Linked DNA regions of Homo sapiens: region 2 is linked to region 1. Evidence: fine-mapped expression QTL. Tissue or cell type: whole blood. Region 1 holds a variant in brackets; the other region holds the start of a gene. Each region is shown on its reference strand, or each on the opposite one. Region 1 has its middle 190 kb from the start of LINC00358. Region 2 holds the start of PPP1R13B (protein phosphatase 1 regulatory subunit 13B).

Evidence for each region. PIP is the estimated chance that this variant, and not a neighbour inherited with it, causes the effect. A credible set is the group of variants that fine-mapping cannot tell apart.
Region 2: PPP1R13B starts here. The variant in region 1 is the best candidate, but not a certain one, in a credible set for the expression of PPP1R13B in whole blood (TOPMed, PIP 0.73).

The regions. Positions count from the first base shown.
Region 1 is chr13:61,839,118-61,843,512 of GRCh38, forward strand. No RefSeq gene overlaps it. Among named protein-coding and RNA genes, the nearest start is that of LINC00358, 190 kb to the right of the region's middle. The variant C/G (reference allele first, on the strand shown) is at 2,312.
Region 2 is chr14:103,845,570-103,849,964 of GRCh38, forward strand. It overlaps PPP1R13B (protein phosphatase 1 regulatory subunit 13B), which reads right to left and starts at 2,006. Exons shown (of 17, transcript NM_015316.3): 1 at 1,730-2,006. The coding sequence starts at 1,738. PPP1R13B-DT (PPP1R13B divergent transcript) reads left to right here and starts at 2,152. Exons shown (of 3, transcript NR_038436.1): 1 at 2,152-2,174. RefSeq lists silencers at 1,516-1,715, 1,886-2,325, 2,346-2,475, 2,496-2,565.

The DNA of each region.
Region 1 (4,395 bases):
GAACAGTGTTCTTCCACTAACAAGCTCTGTGACCCTAACCACATTGGACACTCAATAATTCTTAACTGATAAAATGAAAATATTAACAAACTTGTATCCTGAATCCATGTGAGCATTAAGATAGAGTATATATTGTGTTTAATGAAGTGTCTGGCCCAGGACTTAGCATTTTCATCTTATTTTAAATAAAAACATGGTTATGCTTTTACATTCAGGTGCATACATAGATGAATTAAAATTATGTAATGAGAATATACAAAGTAAACAAATTATTTGTCTTCTTTCTCTTTTTTTTTTTTTTTGCTTTTGTTTTTGTTCTTAATCTTCTTGGTGTTTAGTATAGGTAATTCCTTTATATATCCTGAATCTGGCATTCAGTCCAACAGAAAATGATGCTTGGAAAAGCAGATTATGGCTGAGCAATTTGATGCAAATAAGCTGAGAAAGTGCCAAAAATGTTCTTTATTTCTGGGATTAGGTTTTTCTGCCAGTGAATGTCACCCATTAGTGCTGTAAATGAACAGCCCTGTGATTTCCGTGAATCTATTGAGGATCTCACTTTCTCTGAGAACTGTGAATCCTTTAAACTAGCATGAAAAATATTTGAACAGGCAGAAAATCAAGTTCAAATCTAAAAACTGAGCTGAAGAAAGCACCTATTGATGCACTCTCAGATCACAGAATTTTGAGCCTGAAAGTACCTTAGACTATTCTAGTGCTCCAGAGAAGAAAATTATAGGGCTAAGGCCCAAAGGTCTGGATAAAAATCATCAAGCCAACTTGATCAGATTCTGTGCAGCAGGCAGGTGTCCTGAAATCCAAGTGAATAATTTTATTTTCTCTGACACCCAATTGTCTTGTCTCACCTTTTGTTATGAGCAAAAAACTGTCTTTTAATTTTGCCAATTTCTGGGGATTTCTTAAGAAGTGCTACTAGGGTATGGTAAGTGAAGGGAAATAGGACTTAATTGAAGAATAACTTACATGACAAGTCTGCACTTATATCGAGGAGAGCTTGGAATTCAAGGTAAAACCCATTTTGCAATAATTATATAATATTTAATATTGTCCTAACATTCCTCAGCCAGTTTGAAAAATGTTCTCCCTGTTTCATAGTTGAGGCACAGTGCTACTAATAGTAAAAAGCCTGCACACTATTTTTAACAACGTATCTATGTATGTAAAGCATATTATGAGAGCAGTAGCTGTATCATTTTTGTTCTGCCCTATCAGTCCTTTCATGATCATCAAAACCGTAAATGAGGCATCTCACTGCTTTCATTTACTATTGACGGTTCTAATGATAATAGACAAGGGCTCAAATTAAATTTGGGGAAAATAAAATATTTGTCAAGTAATTAAACTTATAGCCCATTACTGTAATCCTCTAATAATCGATGGCTCTATCAAGGACTGTGTTGAAGGTCATTTCTAATAAGACAGTTCTTTGTCCAGGGAGAAAAAAAAAAAACAAGGAATGCTTATCAGTTAATTTAATGTATGTTATTGGTTATAAACCTAACACAGACTGTTTCAAATGCACTATACTAAATCATAAATTTGAGAGGCCAGGGATACTGTAGGTATCAGTTGAAGCTTCGTCTGGAATGCAAAAGGACTACCAACATTTTGTTGTAAATTTGTTCTCTCTCTCTCTTTCCCTCTCTCTCTCTAATATCTTCCTGTGATGTAATATTGACCTCACTTTCAACTCCAGGAGGGGCTTCTTGGAAGTTTTAAGAATGAAATAGATCTCAGCCTCATATTTTATGTTTCCAAGTCAGTTGGAGAAAGCTAATGTATTTAATCATATTTCTAGTAAATAATATGATATACATTCAAGTTGGAATAACTTATGTCATTTGTCAAACTCAACAAATCATTATGGGCAACCGACTGAGAATCTACCCTGGCCTTGGAATAGGAGAGTCAATTCTACTCGAACCTTAAAGTTTGAAAATTTAGTACTGTTAAGAAGAGAAATAAGGGCATGTGTGTTAATTAAAAAAAAAAAATCAAGAAACAATCTTAAACTTCTTTACTTCAGTTCAAAATAACCATGCAAACTGTGGTTTCCTAGTTTTCCATGCAAATATCCAATAAGGCAGTTTACATGTTTCACATTTTACCAAGCATCATATTTAAAAGAGCAAATAATATGGGGCGTCTTCTTCATATAAAGATCCGAATTCATAGTATCAATTTTCAAAGTAAAGAAAGATGGTACTAAAAATGTTGTTATTTAATCAGGATTGACTGAAAAATGCCTGGTCAAATTGTATGTTTGCAGATCTATATCCAATGCAATAAG[C/G]CTTTTATTTTGAAATGTGTATTTATCTGTAATTCTGCAAATTATACTTAACATTTGCTTTTCTTAATATATTTGTAGAAAAAACAATGCTTACAGAAAATGAGTTTTCTAAACAGTAGTTCTTTTTTCAGAAGTCTTTAACTATGAAAATCATTTTTAACTTGTTTTTTAAAAGTAGCCTCAAAAGTCTTCAGATAGAGACCTACATAAATGTGCATTATTTTGTTTCCATCCTCCAAATGTGTTAGAAATGCCACATTTTATGTTTTTAATTAGTCAGACAAGTGAAAGACTTCAAAGTTTAAACATTCACATCATAAGTGTATCTTGACATTTTAAAGAAAGAAACATAATAATAATGTGTACTAACAGAATCATGGGAATTGACAGGTCAACAACTCTTTATTGTTTTTCTTTTTTTTTTTTGAGAAAACTTATTTTACTAGCGGTGGAATCAAAGACAAAAATATAATAGTCACAGTGTATGAGGCACTTTTTAACTTTATTATACTCATCTTAATCTTGATACACACACATATGACATTCTTCTGAATAGCACCAAACGGAAGCCATTACTGCCCTATTTTACAGATCCAGAAAGAGAAATGACACAAGAAACTTAAAGTAACTCGCCTTAAATGTCAGAGTTAAAATGTGACAGTCCCAAAGTAGCAGCCTAGCATAGTGTTTGAGAGCACAGACTCTTGAGGGGAATGGCCAGGATCCTAATTCTGGTTCTGATAATACTGTGTGCCCTTGGGATATTGTTTCTCAGTTACTTCATCCGCAGAATGAAGATTTATCATAGCTAACATACTGCTCTTGTGATGATTAAATGGATAGATGTAGACAATATATTTATAACAATATCTGAATCATATTAAGAGCAATGTGAAAAATTTTATTAGAAAAAATCGATGTTTTTTATGGTACTGCACTGCCAACGAAGTTGTAATTATGATAGGATTGGTATAACATATTGATACAATTCTACGATCTCTCAAAAATTCACTTGCTTATCAAACTTAAGATATATATATATTAGATATATATTATATTCATTTAATTACATAATAATGTATCAGGACACAGAAACCCAGGGAAAATGTAGAATATCTTCTTAAAGCATCACTTTTTCTATAAAAGATATATTTGATGTTTTTCTTTAAAAATATTTGATAATGTAAAGTTCACATTTTTAAAGATATGCAGTAACCCAATAAAGTTCTAGTTTTTAATAAACTACTATGGGTTCTGCCTTAAATTTCTAAAAAATCAGTTATTTTTATTATTTTATGAAAATTTGGATAAAAATTTGGGGCAAACACTGACTTCATAAAGTCGTTGAGACAGAGAACAATTCTCTATCAATTTGTTCTTTGATTTATTTAATGGACTTCATTTTTAAAAATCTATTATTAGAATTCTCTGTAGTATAGATATACCTCATGAGAAACTGAACTCTGCACTGAAAACTGTGAAGGATAATGCAATTCGTAACCTTAGGATCTATTAGCATGACACTATCTTTTCTTGATGAATTTATGACCAGATATGGTAACAAATCATATAGAAAACTTACAACTTACAAAGAAGTTTCTGACTAATAGAGTCACACTAATTGGATTCAAAGACAAAATAAATTCACAAAAACCAATAAAAATGCAGTAGGAAGAAAGAAATAATATATTCAAAGATATACAATTTTTATCTTAAATTTAGATTGCTTTTTTCCTTTTTGGAAATGTAGAACAAATAAATTATAAATTTCCCAAGCATGTAGAACTGCCTTAAAGTTCTATTGTGTTCTGTGCTTTCAAAAACACAGATTTGTGGAGCTTTCTCCCCACTATTTTTACAAACATATACTCTCTGTCAAACCAAAGAACAAAAATTTTAATGGGTATTTTTAGAAAATGTAATTTCCTTCAATCTATTTTAATAAAATATAAATTTTTATGTTTTTATTTATTTTTATCAAGCTCTCTCAAAGTAAAATTGAATATATATCTTTTTCTTTTCTTAGTCTATATTAATAATATTGAGGAAATAGATAAATAGAGGAAGGAGTGAGACACATAGAG
Region 2 (4,395 bases), not on the chromosome of region 1:
AACTCAAAACTCTACTCCCGTGGAATAGAGGTAAGATGTCTGAATGAATCATATGGAAAATGTAAGCCAAGTTTCTTAGCAGGATATTTATAATTAAACATTATACAACGACGAAGCCAGCCAAAATTTTTCTAGATATCCTTCAATGCCACCACAGTATGAATGCATCAATCAACTATTACAGGATTTAACTAAAACTACTTTCAAAATTCTGAAACACCATAATGCCTTTCATCAAAATCTAGCTAGTGAGAATTAGGGAGGGAAGTTTCCAAATGCCTTATCTTATAAAGTTAGAAATTGAAAATTCAAAGCCATATTAAGAATAATAAATATTTGTATGACATTCTGTTCAACCATCACTTTTGGATACATCATCCTATTTGATCCTCAGGACAGCGCTCAGATATTGGTACATTTTTATCCCTACTTTAGAGGTAATTCCAGGCTCAAAGACCTTGACTTCTTCAAGGTCACATAGCTAAAAAGTGGAAGAACCAGCGTTTCACCCCAGATCTTCTGATGCTCATCCAATTCTCTTTCCATTACAAGACAATTATTCATTTAAAACCAAATGTTTAGAAACCCAACAAGTCTGATGCTAAAGAAAGACCTAAGGATCAAGTAGATCAAACCTTAAGACTTGGAAAACGCTGAAAGCCGGCTACAAAACATGCTGGAATCCGTTAAAAACGGGGAGAAGAGATTATCAAGAGAAAGGAAATCAAAGAGGAAGAAGGGGGATCTAATCTAAATGTCCTTGGGTGCAGCATAGCAGAATGGCAATATTCAAGTAGAGAATGCAGGGAAACTGCACTTTCCTGTGAAATGTGATTTTCAACGTAGTATTGTAGGTTAAAAAAATGACTGTGTTACTTTACTATAAACGTGTTTGAGAATTTTACTTACGATATAGGCGCTCAGAAAACCAATACCTCTCCAACTGGGTACAACCAGTCCCACATTTTTTCATAAGTCATGATGCTTACCTCCCAAAAAGCCAATTTTTAAAAATCAGAATTCAGCATCCCCTCCTATTCAGATTATAGGTAAAGGGAAGGGTCGGTAGGACGATGGCAAATCTAATGGCCAATGTCTTTCTAGGCGAAAGCATCCTTAAGGGCAGGACAAAGACACCACCACTACAAACGAACCTCGTTCAACCTTCAGAACACGGAGAACAAACCAGTTAAAGCAAAACGAACCAACATTGCAGATACGGGAAAAGGGAATTCCTAAGATGGCTCTCCAAATCCGTGCACTCGGCACCTTTCCTCAGTACAACCGCGAAGGCTACGGGAATGCGCCTGCAGAGTGTGGGAACTCCGGGCGCGGGTGCCCACCCCGCCGACTCCCAGGGCGACCCCAGAACGTTCGTTTCAGGCGGGTCACAGCTGCGCCACCCACCAGACCTGTGCCCCAGCGTCCGACCGCGCACCTGAGAGGACCGAGGAGATGACCGGCCCCAAATGCATCTGCTTCTCCCCGCGGCCGCGGAGGCCGAGCAGGAAGGGCCCGCAGGCGGCCCCGGCCCCGCGCTGACAGCCCGGCGCCGCCCCCACCTGCCCGCCTGGGGGGCGCCGCGGCCGGGCGCGCCCGCCCAGCCACTTCCTTCCCCGCCCGCCCGGCCTCGCACCGGCCCGCGGGGGCTGGGAGCCGCGGGAGGAAGGAGGTTTGGCCAGCGGCCCGCGGAGGAAGCCGCCGCCACCTCCCGCCCGCCCTCACCCACCGGCATCATCGCGGGGAGAGTCCGCGACGCCCTCGGCCGCCGCCTGACAGGACGCTCCGCGCCGAGCTGTGCCCACCGCTCCGGCCGCCTCCTAAGGCCGCGCTCCCGCCGCCGTGCTCTCCGGCCCGGCCGCGGCGAGGCGGCAGCTGCGGCGGGCTGCGGGGCTCTCGCTGGCCCTGTCGCGGCCGCCGGCGCGCTGCGTCGCTGTCCCGGGCACCCGGCCGCCGCCGCCGCCGCCTCAACCTCAGCCTCAGCCTCAGCCCCAGCCCGACAGCCTGCGGCCCGCCCGCCCGGCTCGCTCTTCAGCCCCCGCAGGCCCCGCCCCCAGCGCGACGCCCCGCACGGGTCCCGTAGCCCCCTCTGATTGGCCCGGTGGGAGCGGGGGCGGGGAGAGGGGCGGGGCTTCCCGGCTCCGCCCGCTACCCTCGCTCTCAGCGGCGGCCAGGTGCGTGCGCGTCCGCGCTCCCGGCGGCGGGGGAGGGGCGGACGCGCAGTGGGCACCGGTGGCCTCCCCCGCCCTTGCGTGAGCCCCGACTAGGGAAGACCGCGGACGGTGGGAGGACTGAGGCCCGACAGGGAAGGGCCGGCCCGGGTCCCGCAGCGGATCACGGCAGGGCCGGGACTCGAACCCGGGCTCCCGGGGGCCGACTGTGGGCCGGGAGCGTCCCTGCGGCGACGGCGCGCGCCCGCACTCTGACCGCGGCCTGACCCCCGGCTGCCGGCGCGCCGTGGGGCTGCGGCCCAGAGGCCAGTGGGAGGGGCGCGGGGGGCCCCCGGAGCGAGCATGTGACCCGAGGCCGCGCGCTCGGAACCAGCCCCGGCCCGACGCCCTTGGCTGGCACCTGCTTCTCCCCCACCGGCGTCTTCCGCGGCTCTCGGGGCCGCGCCCCCCGCACCAGCTCCCGAGCCTTGGCCTTCGCCCGAGCGATCTCCCGCCTAGAACCCCGCGCCCACCTGTGCCACCTGTGCCCACCTGCGCCAGCATCCCTCGAGGTCCAGCTCCAGCGTCCCCGGGGAGGGTCCGGTCCTCGTCTCCAGGGCCTGGGTCTCTCCCTGCAGTCCCGTCTCCAGAGGCGCCGCCCCCTCGGGCCTGAGCGCCGGAGTGACAGAGCCCTGGGCAGGGCCCTGAGCAGACCCTCAGTAAAGGCTGCCAGGGGGGTAGGCACCCGCTCGGGGCCCCCCACATGGTGCCATTCGCCCGGACCGCGGCGGAGAGCAGACAGGGGGACTGAGGTGCTCCCCGCGGCAGCACCGAACTCCCACGGGCATCAGAAGGCAAGGTCTGCGGATGGCCCCAGACACAGAAGGCGTAAGCCGCCCTGGGAAGCGCCGGCCCAGTGGAGAAGGCCGCCGCGAGGTCAGGGTCAGTCTGGAGCCTGTCTGGTTCTCGGAGAGGCTTCTGGCTGCTGCAGAGTGGGGGCAGAGCAAGGGAGGAGGCCAGGGAGCTCCCACCAGCCCATTCCTGGGGAGCCACCCCTGTCCCTCAGAGGCCACGGGGGCTCGTGTTTGCGAGTGTGGACTTTCCAGTTAGACAGACTTGGTTCAGCACCGCCTCCGCCACACCCTCGCCTGGGATCCTAAACAAGCCGCATCTTCTCTGCATCGTAGTGTGCTTGTCTCTGTGATGGGAGAGTGTAGGGATAATAGTGCCTGCCTCGTGTCAAGAGGCTTTTTCGGATGCGAGGGATGGAAAGCGCCCAGCACAATTTGTGGCACGTGGTAGCTGTTCCATAAATAGCATTCTGTAGTTGGGCCGTGATTAGCAAGGAGGCTTAGTGTACAGACGTCCCTGGGATTTTTAAACCTATCCACACCTGGGCATGAATGGCTAATGACACCCCTCTTCTGGGAGCAGAGTTTGGAGAGAAGAGGAGGCTCTAGATAATGAGTGATCCTAGGCTGAAAGTCAGAGACATACTTAAGTTCTAATTCTAGCTGCTCTGCTTCTGACCTCCTGTGGGGCCTTAGGCAACTTGCACTCCTTCTCTGGGCCTTGGTTTCCCCAGCTTTGACAGCTGATGTCCCTGAGTCACGAAGGGGTACTTCTGGCCCACGAAGCCTGACAAAGGACAGGTTTTGCCAAGGCTCTTCAGAGAGGTGCCCCCCGGGGTAAGGTGATCCAAATGAGCCTGCTCTTCCAGGAAGGGAAGCATTGGCACAAGGGCTCCCCTCTTGCCTGCAGGACCTGTGGGCACAGACAGTGGCAGCTACCGTGCCTCACACCAAAGCATCCTATATCCTCCAGGTAAGGGTCCATTTGAGGCAGGCTGGTCAGCTCCCCCTCAAGTCCTTCCCGCTGGTCCCCATCCTCCTCTCCACCCAGCCTGCCACCTCCAGGCATCGGCCCATCACCTCCCACCTGGACCAAGCTCATTCATTATAAGCCCACTGCTCTAGCCTCCACGCCCCCACCATTCCCAACACGCCCCTGCCCTCCATCTTCCTGGAGCACACACGGCCCAACCCTGTAAAGCCCTTCTGTGTCTCTCCATTACACAGACCAAAGTTCACGAGCAGCCCATCAGGAATCGCCGTGAATGTTGTTAATGTGCAGTGGCTCACGCCTGTAATTCTACCACTTTGGGGGGCCAAGATGGGAGGATTGCTTGAGGCCAGGCCAGGAGTTCGAGACCGGCCTGGTCAACACAATGAGATCCCCCCATCTC